Regions from separate parts of the Homo sapiens genome. Here region 1 is linked to region 2. The links come from fine-mapping of genetic effects on gene expression. A gene starts in region 2. The other region holds a variant in brackets. All regions are shown on one strand. Distances are from middle to middle.

Region 1 (5,000 bases), 39 kb after region 2:
CCTACCTGCCCTGTGGGGGCCATGTCCATTTTGTGCCCACGTTTTAGGAGAGCGCGTTTTGGAGCAAACACTCAGAGACCTGTCCCCAAAGGCCATGGGCCAAACGTGGGTGGGGCCGGGCCCTCCGCTGGTCTTTGGGTTTGGAGGGTGAAGAGCCACTGAAAGGAAGGAAGGTCCCCAGGGAGGGCAAGTGTAGGCAGCAAGAGACCTTCCCCAGCAGAGGGCAGAGAGGAGGCCAAGCAGGACCAGGGGGCGTGACTGTGGAGACAGGCTCTTGGGTGCCGCCCTTCTGGGAGGTGCTGGACGCATCAGGCTGGCAGCGTCGGGGCCTGTCCATGGCTACGAGGTGTCCACCGGGCTGCGTTTTTCCAGGGGACTCTGGGGAGGATCTGCTTCCTCTTCCAGCTGCTCCAGGTGCCTACCTTCCTGGGCTTGGGGCCCCTCCCTCCATCTCCAGAGCCGGTGGGGTGGGGTCAGGATCACACCCTGTCTCTCCTGCTCCCTCTCCCCTGCGGTAACCCTGTGGCTTCGTCCCATCTGCCTCCCCGGCTAATCCAGGCCGACTTCCCTGGTTTAAGGTCAGCTGTTGGGCAGCCCCCATTTCCTCTGCTGCCTGGACTCGCCTCTGCATGTGAGCTTCTGCGTTCACAGATTCTGGGGACTGGGGTGCAGGCATCATTGGGGTCCATCGTTCTGCCAGCTGCAGGTGGAAGGTCGCTCTCCGGCCTCGCGACATCTGGCTGGAAGCATCCCAGAGGCTCCTCCTAGCTCGTGGTGCTGTGGGGTGGGCAATGGTCTTTTTTATTTATTTTTTTTGAGATGGAGTCTCACTCTGTCACCCAGGCTGGAGTGCAATGGCACGATCTGGGCTCACTGCAACCTCCGCCTCGCGGGTTCAAGCGATTCTCCCGCCTCGGCCTCCCGAGTAGCTGGGATTACAGGCGCCCACCATCATGCCTGGCTAATTTTTGTGTTTTTGTAGAGACAGGGGTTTTACCATGTTGGCCAGGCTGGTCTTGAACTCCTGACCTCAGGTGATCTGCCCACCTCGGCCGAGACTACAGGCATGAGCTACCGTGCTTGGCTTTTTTTTTTTTTTTCGAGTGGGGGTCTTGCTTGGTTGCCCAGGCTGGAGAGCAGTGGCATGATCATGGCTCACTGCAGCCTCCACCTCCTGGGCTCAAGCGATCCTCCTGCCTTAGCCTACCAAAGTGCTGAGATTACAGGTGTGAGTCACTGTGCCCAGCGCAGGCACTGATCTTGGATCATGGGTAGAATTCAGGGGTGCAGAGAGGCATTTTGGGAGGGGCCCAGTGCGGCCGAGTGCTGGGAGTCGCTGGGGCCCGAGGCCCAAACCCCTCCAGGATGCATGGCTGGGGTGGGTGGGCACCCCCACTCCCGGTCCCTATCCTGGGCCTCCCCTTTGCTCTGTGGAGCCGGTTCTGTCTGTTCCCAGGCCCCTGGCGTTTCGCCGTTTGTTCCGTAAATATTTCATGCCCAGGGCGCAATTGGAAACACTTTCCTTTAATCAGCAGTGGGGGAAGGCAGGCGCCCAGCCAGGCCAGGGGAGGAGCTGGGGTGGGAAGATTTGGAGAGGACCCGGGAGGACTTCCCTGCCTGAGCCTCGTCAGAGGCCCTTCAGAGACGGAGATGCTGCCCAGTTTTCCGGGAGGGAGAGAGGAAAGTGTGAGGCTTGCCCGAGCCGAGTGCCCGGGGCTTTATGATTTGTGCAGCTGCTGGGCTTGGCGTGGCCCTGGTGGAAGCTCTGACGCCATCTGAGCCTTGGTCCCCTTGTAGGCGTCAGCCTGATCCTTGGGGGGCTGGAGGTTGAGCTCAGACTGAACAGGGAGGAGAGGGGTAGGGGCTGGGGCTGGGGCAGAGGGAACAGACCCTGGTGCTCCAGGCAGGGCTGCAGGCAGAGCCACAGGGGGTGGCTCCCAGAGACCTGCTTGTCATTTAGGGACTCAGAAGCCCCATCCTGCCTTAGGATAAAACCCACCTCCAAGACTGACCCTGCTGTCTGGAGAGAGATCACCCCCCACCTCTTACCATGCCCCGTGCAGGGAGGCCCTGCCACCCTCTCCAGCTTCACTGGTCCCCCGGCTCTGCCAGCCTTGTGTAGTCTCCATCCTCTGTCTCAAAAGGCCCCTCTCGTGGCCCTACCCCGCAGCTCAGCCCTAGCTGTCGCTGGGTGGGCCTCATGGCTCAGCCTCAAGGCACCCTGGGTCCCTTGGCTGGTCCCATGCACACCCCATGGATCAGGTTCCAGGGGGCTCCCATGCACACCCCACGGATCAGACTCAGGGCAACTCCACACTCCCCACAGAACAATCAGGCCCAGCCCTTGTCCGGCAGGTGTGGGGATGGTGGCTATGGACCACGCATCAGGATGCTGCCGTGGTGGGGCCCCT[C/G]AGCCTTTGCAGGCCGTGCCGGGGTCCAAGGGCTCCGGCTCTGGGGGAGGTCCATGCTCTGTCAACCATCCGGTCTGCAATACCCTGGGGCCTCCCCGCCCCTTCCTGTTTCCTCCTGAGAGCCCTGCAAGCTGGAGGGGGAGCCCCGGCCCCTTTTTTTTTTTTTTTTTTTGAGACGGAGTCTTGTTCTGTTGCCCAGGCTGGAGTGCAGTGGCGCGATCTCAACTCACTGCAACCTCCGCCTCCTGGGTTTAAGTGAAAGTGATTCTCCTGCCTCAGCCTCCTGAGTAGCTGAGATTACAGGTGCCCATCACCACGCCTGGCTAATTTTTGTATTTTCAGTAGAAACAGGGTTTCACCATGTTGGCCAGGCTGGTCTCAAACTCCTGACCTGAGGTGATCCACCCACCTCGGCCTCCCAAAGGTGTGAACCACCACGCCAGGCCCCCTGCACCTTCTTCTGGGTGGGCAAGAGCCATGCTGAGCCCCTCCCCTGCCATGGATAGGGGTGGCAAGAATAGTCCATTCCCCATGGGCTCCCTCCGGCAGGCAGCGGATGGGTTGGGGCCCACACAGTGGTTCAGGAAAGGCTGAAGGGCGGTTGCCGGCCAGAGCTGGGCGGGTCCCTGGCCTGAGCCTCCTCTCACTCCCTTTCCCAGGATGGAAAGGCCACTGTGAGCTGGGTGTGTCCTGCCAGGAGGGAGTTGGAGTCGGGGGCAGGAGACCCACTGGGTCTCCTGGGCTCCTGGAAGAGGCAGCAGTGGGTCCCTGCGGAGGTGGCCTGATCCCCGGCTCAGCCTGGTTTTCCCAGCTTTGCATTTGGGGGTGGGACCTGCAGGGGGAGAGTGACGGGGTGGGCGGGGACAGGGGCTGCAGGTGGAGGCACGAGAAAGCCACCCGACCCCTTGAGGTCATGCTGTTTGCGTCGGAGAAGAGGGCCGGTGTCAGGGTGCCCCCTCGGCCTCTGTGTGCACCTCCCCGCTCCCCGCCCCGTGCAGGTCAGCAGAGCCTCGATCCCTCTGCACGTTCCGGCCCCCTCCCATCTCCAGCAGCGTCTCTTCCCGGGGTGCCCCTCGGACTCTCAGCTCCCTAGTCTGATCCAGCCCAGGCAGGGAGCGGGCGTGCCACGTGGCCAGGAGTGGCCTCCAGGCCCAGCTGCGGCCCCTTCGACCCTGCGGAGGGATCATGGCCCAGCTGTTCTAACATGGCCAGACCAGGACACTCTGGCCGGCCCGAGAACTGAACCGGGAAGGAGGCAGGGAAAGGGGAGGGAGGAAGACAATGGGGAAGCAGTGACATCCGAGATGTAGCCAGAGACGGACATCCTGGACTGTCGTGCAGGGCAAGGCGGGTGGGCGGGAGCCAGGTGGCCTGAGAGCCCCTCCCTGCCCAGGGGTCTCTGGTCAGGCAGTTCCTTCCCGGGCTGCTGGATCGTGTGTGCAGGGAACCCGTCAGCCTGGCTGCCCAAGGGCCCAGATGTCCTCTCAGTGCCCGGGGGTCCTTGACAGCCCCAGCAGGAGCCCCACGTGCCTGTGGGGCAGGCCCCGCAGGTCCCTCTCTGTAGGACTCAGAATACCTTCTCCAATGCCACGTGCTCTCCCTGAGTGCCCAGTGCCACAGAGGGCCCCGCTGGCGAGGTTACTTCAACGTCAGGCTAGAGGGTGCAGCGAGCAGGACTCACAGCCCAGGTTCCCAGGCAGGTGTGGCAGGAGCCCATTCCCTGGGTCGGTGTTCTCATGTCACCCCACGGTGACCCTGCTGTACAGAGGCGGGGGCGCGGGGCCCCTGGCTGGTGCCCTCCTGCTGCCAGACTTGTGCTCTGCTGAAGAGGGGCTGGCGCGGCAGGTATGAGCCCGGCACGGAGGTCGTGAGCAGTGAGAAGCCTGGCACCTATGGGTTCGGGGCAGGGAGGCCCTGGAAGGTCCTGTCCTCCGGGAGCCCTGCACAGCACCCCCTGGTGGTGGCTCCTGTTCGTGTCGGGGCTGCAGCCTCCCTTCCTGGACGGTTTTCCATTCCTCCTTCCCACTCTCCCTGCTGCTCACCCCTCCCATCCTCCACAGGTCAGAGGTCATAGCTGCAGGGTCAGCAGGTCAGGGCCTGGGGCAACCCTAGGAAGGTGTGAGTGTGAGAAGCTGGTCCAAACCTGCCTCGGCTGCCTGGTGGTGCGGACAGGGAGTCCTGGGCATCCGTGAGGGCTGCTTCACGGTCAGGCTTAGGGATGTGCAGGGTGACTTGGACGTGGGTCATGAGTCTTTGCTCCAGAAAGAGGGGGCTGAGTGTCCAAGGCCAATCCCGAGTCTGTCACCTAACACCATTTGTGCTCAAAAAACTGAACAGAGTGGACACAGGCCCTGAGTTTGCGCCCCGAGGCCGAGAGAGGGCAGATGTGGTGGTGACATTCACCACCTTGGACCCAGACCCAGATGCTACCTGTCCCTGAGCTCCAGGAAGTTGTGAGAAGGGCCTGAGCTGTTCTGCACTTTCTCGTGGCCGGGCGTGGCTGGTGGTGCAGGAGTTGCTGCCCCAGGGTGAGGGCCCGGAAGCTCCTGCCAGCACGTGCCGGGGTGGAAAGGGAAGCTGTCCACAGCC
Region 2 (5,000 bases):
GCTTTTTGCTGCTTGAACAATTCTAGGACACATACATCCTCTACCTTTGCAAGTCCATCTGCAGGGCAAGCTCCCAGACTTCCCCACCTCTGCAGCAACTTTTCAAAGCCTGACCAGAGGGTGAGACTTGCAGAGAAAGTAAATCAGCCTTTTTTTTTTTTCTTCTTTGAGATGGAGTCTCATTCTGTTGCCCAGGCTGGAGTGCAGTGGGGTGATCTCGGCTCACTGCAAGCTCCGCCTCCCGGGTTCACGCCATTCTCCTGCCTCAGCCTTCCGAGTAGCTGGGACTACAGGCGCCCGCCACCGCGCCCGGCTAATTTTTTGTATTTTTAGTAGAGATGGGGTTTCACCGTGTTAGCCAGGATGGTCTCCATCTGCTGACCTCGTGATCCACCCGCCTCGGCCTCCAAAAGTGCTGGGATTACAGGCGTGAGCCACCGCACCCGGCCTATATCAGCCTTTAAACACTAGACTTCCCATGAAAATCTCCATTTCTGGGTGGTTTTTTTTTTTTTAATGGAGTTTCGTTCTTGTCACTCAGGCTGGAGTGCAATGGCATGATCTCGGCTCACGGCAACCTCTGCCTCCCAGGTTCAAGCGATTTTCCTGCCTCGGCCTCCTGAGTAGTTGGGAATACAGGCGCCTGCCATCACGCCCGGCTAATTTTTGTATATTTATTTATTTATTTATTTATTTATTTATTTATTTATTGAGACGGAGTCTGGCTCTGTCGCCCAGGCTGGAGTGCAGTGGCGCTATCTCGGCTCACTGCAAGCTCCGCCTCCTGGGTTGATGCCATTCTCCTGCCTCAGCCTCCCGAGTAGTTGGGACTACAGGAGCCCGCCACCACGCCCGGCTAATTTTTTATGTTTTTAGTAGAGATGGGTTTTCACCGTGTTAGCCAGGATGGTCTCGATCTCCTGACCTGGTGATCCACCCGCCTCGGCCTCCCAAAGTGCTGGGATTACAGGCGTGAGCCACCGCGCCCGGCCTAATTTTTGTATTTTTAGTAGAGACGGGGTTTCACCATGTTGGCCAGGCTGGTCTCGAACTCCTGACGTCAAGTGATCCCCCGACCCCCTACCCCCTTGCCTCAGCCCCGCAAAGTGCTGGGATTACAGGCCTGAGCCACTGCCCCGCCATCTTTTTTTTTTTTTTTTTTTTTTGAGCTGGAGGGTGTGGGCTTGTGCTGGGCTCTCATGAGTTGCCAGTGCCTTGAGGCTCAGTGGCCACAGTCCCCCCAGCCCCACTCCCTGCCTTACGCAGCTGAGTTTGAGAGCCATGAACTGAGCCCAATTAAACGGTGTAGAGCCCTTTGCCCTCTTTCTGTGCCCATCTCAAGGGCAGACGAAGGCCAAACTGACGTGGCCTGGGTGAGGGTCCCGAACACCCTGGACTCAGACCCTACCTCTCCGTGGCAGGGCGCCGCGGCAGCAGGTGCACAGGCCGTGGCTCTCACTCTCACCGTCTCACGCCAGAGCGACCCGGGCAAAGCCGCGCGCGGTGGCCGGCGTGGCTGGGAGCAGCCCCCGAGCCCCCGTCAGACCAACGCGGATCGCGGCACTGCTGCGACCCGAGCATCCCGCGTGCTCCCTCCGGGACCACTAGGCCCGGCCGCCGCGGGAACTCCGAGCCTCCCCACGGTCCCCAGGGGGCGCTGCGTGCTCGCGCCTCGGGGAGCAAAGCGAAAGTCGCTCGGGCACGCGGGGTGCAGTTGCGCGTGGGGCGCTGCCTGGGGGAGCCAGAGGCCCCGGGACCCCTTATGTAGCGCCCGGGCCCCAGCCGCAGCCCACCCAGCGAGAAGCGCCCCTGCCCACCGCCGCGCACGCTCGGAGCCGCGGGGCCAAGACTGCGGGAGGGGAGGGGTCCGCTCCGGGCCAGCGCCAGTCGGGGGTCTCCAGGCCCCAACGCACCAGGGCGGGCCGGAGGCGGGACGGGCCGCGCGGGACAGCGGAGGGGGTGCCTGGGCGCGCCGGGCCGTCGGGGAAGCGCGGAGGCGGGCACGCCGGGGAGGGCGGGAGGGGGCCGAGCTTATAAAGGCCCGCGGGCGGAGGAGGGCGGGAGCCGCCGTCCGGCCCAGCTCGGCCCCAGTGAGCCGAGCGCTGCGCTCCGCCGAGGGGCAGGGCGGTCGCCTGAGCGAGCGCGGGCCCGGGACGTCGGCACCGGCGGGGCGGCCGAAGGAGAAGGAGGAAGAGGAGAAGGCGGCGCGCGGGTCCCCGCGGGTCAGCCATGGCGCGCCGGCCCCGGGGCCCCCGCACCGCCCCATAGCGCCGCGGCGTCCGCTCGGTCTGGGCCGGGCCCTGGGCCCTCCAGCCATGGAGCCGCACGTGCTCGGCGCGGTCCTGTACTGGCTGCTGCTGCCCTGCGCGCTGCTGGCTGGTGAGTGGGGGGCGGGCGCCTGGGGGCGACGGGAGGGGGCTGCGTCTCGGCTCCCCACGGCCTGGACACCGGACGACGCCGGCCGGGGCGAGGGCTGCGGGCGAGCGGGCGCGGAAATTCCCAGGGACGCGCGACCCGGGCGCCCGCATTCCTGAAGCATGAGCGCGCCAGGCGGCGGCGGGGCTCCTGTCCCAGGGCCGGGCTGGAAGGGCGGCGGCGGCTGGGGGAGACGGCACCGCGTGCCCACGGGGGCGGTCGAGCGAGCGCCGGGCATAGCGCGGCTGGCGTCTCCGCCGGGGCGCTGCGGAGAGGAGGCCGCCGGGCGAGGCGGTGTTTGCCCCGGTGGGAAGGGCCGCGGCGGTGGTGGGGGGAGCACGAATCTCTTTTTCTCTTTCGGGTTTAAAAAAAAAAGCGCAAAGTTGCATCAGGACTTCCTGACAATCTGGGAGAAGGCGGGCTTCCTGCCTGGAGCTGTTTAATTTGGAGCTTCCCGAGCCCAACGAACGTCCGTGCCCAGGGCCCAGCCCCGCTCACCGCTGCACCCCCCTCTGCCGGACTGAGGCGGTCCCACACTTTGGAAAAAAATAGTGTGGGTTCCTCCCTGGTCCTCCCTTGCCCTACTGGGCTCAGTTTCGCAGGGGCGGGGGCCGGCCTCTGCCCTGGTCTGGGGGAGGGGACACCCCCGGAGGCTGTGGCCTGGTGTCAGGGCGGGGCAGGGGTCCCCAGTCCTGGCATCTGTGTTCCCTGCTTGCCGGGCAGTGGTGCCCCTTTCGCGAAGCACACCCGGGTGGCTTGGTGCTGCACGGCCTGGCACCCCTACCCTTCCCCGACCCTGGCCTAGCCGGGACCCAGGGTCCGCGCCCTCCGCCCGGGGGCTCCCCACGTGTGATTGATCTGGGAAGCAGTCGGATGGAATTAACCCACGGACAAGTGGGACGGTTTGCATTGGGAGTCCGCCATGGACACGGCAGGTGGGGCCTTTTGATTGTAAAAGCCCTTTCGGAGCCCTTGCCTCGCTCCAGGTGGGAGCTCGCCCAGCGCTAGCTTTGGGGATCTAGAGCCGCCTGCCTGAGGCTCCCAGACAGACTGCGTTTTGATCGGTCGCACAGAAAGGTGGTGAAACTTGGGGAAGATTTTCTAGACAGGAATCAATGAAAACCATTGAGGCTGGAGAGGAGAGGTTTTGAGCAACTCTCTTCAGTGCGGTCAGCCCTGTGTGGACTGGGCAGCCTGGGACCTGCTCCCAGTGCAGGGTCAGATGGGCCGTAAACAGGGCCCGGCTGTGTTCCTTCCTGTGCCTTGAAAACAAGCAGGACAGCCTGGCACAGAGGCAGAGTCTAGAGCTGACAGGCCTTAGAGAGGGAAACAGGAAAGCTTCTGAAACGTCCCGTTCACACTGATCGTTCCATTTCCTCTTGTGTCTGAGTGGGAGCGGGTGTCCTCCCTGCAGGGAATGCCCCCCCTCTCAGATGGCAGCTGCTCCTTGGGCAGAGTTGGCAATGTTTTTCTTTAAATGACCAGATGGTAAATATTTTCATGTCACAAAATCTTCTTCTTCTGGTATTTTTCCAGCCATTAAATGTAAAAGCCCTCCTGAGTTCATGGGCTGTACCTAAACAGGTGTTGAGCCCGATTCTGTGGCACATGTGGTTTGCTGCCCCCTGGGCATTGGTCAGGGGGCCTGGGTTCTGCCTTCTCGATTGCTATCCGCGTGGGGGATCTGGGGGAGGGATCACTGTTCTTCTTGCTTTTGGCCTCCTTGGGGAGGATGGGGAGGTAGCCCAGGGGTGCTCACCCAGGCCCCGTGTCAGTCTTCTATGAAACTTTTAAAGAATAGTGATGACTGACTGTCTGTCTGTATGGTACTTTCCTTAAACCTAAAACTGGTCCCAAATAAAGTCTCTTAATTTGAAAGATGCTGAAGCCCGGGCCATACCCCACACTGATTCTGTGTCTGGGGATGGGGCGTGGGGCCTGGGCCTCACTCAGTGTTTTCTCTCAGTCACCTGGGGGAGATGGAAGTGGAGCCGGCCAAGAACCCTGCCTGCCTGCCTGCTGGCCGGGACTCCTGAGTCAGGCTCTCTGGCCCTGGGGTGTGGGCAGCTCCAGATGGACCCGCGATGTGCAGGTTCAGCTGGCCTGGCCGGAGGTGGGACACTGGCTTTGCTGTCTTTGGAGTGCCCCCTCCCTCTCTGGCGAGCTTTGGCTGGAAGCAGTTCTACCGTGTTTTGGAAATGAATGAGGCCTTCAGAAGGCATTAGTCAGTGTGTGCCTGCGCTGGCTCAGACAGTGCCTGGTGAGGGTTTGAGTCATCCTGGGGTGCCCCTGGCCCCCACGCCCTCCCTCTCCAGTGCAGGATCATTACCCAAAAATCTGGCAGGGAGCTGCCCCACCCACAGGGAGCAGGGGCCTCCTTCAGCAGTCTCACCTAATGTTGCTGGAGCCTTGGGGGATCAGGGCCCATCTCTTCTAGAGAGATGTCAGGGCAGGGCTGGGCGCGATGGCTCACACCTGTAATCCCAGAGCTTCGGGAGGCCAAGGTGGGAGGATTGCTTGAGCGTAGCCATTCGAGAGCAGCCTGGGCAACGTAGAGATCCCCATCTCTATGAAAAATATTTAAA

What was found.
Region 1: its variant is fine-mapped to the expression of PIEZO1 in skeletal muscle (GTEx, PIP 0.92).

The regions. Positions count from the first base shown.
Region 1 is chr16:88,743,332-88,748,331 of GRCh38, reverse strand. All of the region lies in intron 2 of PIEZO1 (piezo type mechanosensitive ion channel component 1 (Er blood group)), which reads left to right. It overlaps PIEZO1-AS1 (PIEZO1 antisense RNA 1), which reads right to left. Exons shown (of 3, transcript NR_120387.1): 1 at 4,842-5,000; 2 at 3,988-4,740; 3 at 2,584-3,243. Among named protein-coding and RNA genes, the nearest start is that of PIEZO1-AS1, 3.1 kb to the right of the region's middle. RefSeq lists a silencer at 2,705-2,764 and an enhancer at 3,782-4,468. The variant C/G (reference allele first, on the strand shown) is at 2,412.
Region 2 is chr16:88,782,280-88,787,279 of GRCh38, reverse strand. It overlaps PIEZO1 (piezo type mechanosensitive ion channel component 1 (Er blood group)), which reads left to right and starts at 2,060. Exons shown (of 51, transcript NM_001142864.4): 1 at 2,060-2,379. The coding sequence starts at 2,316. RefSeq lists silencers at 1,562-1,891, 1,932-2,411, 2,912-3,231 and an enhancer at 1,916-2,829.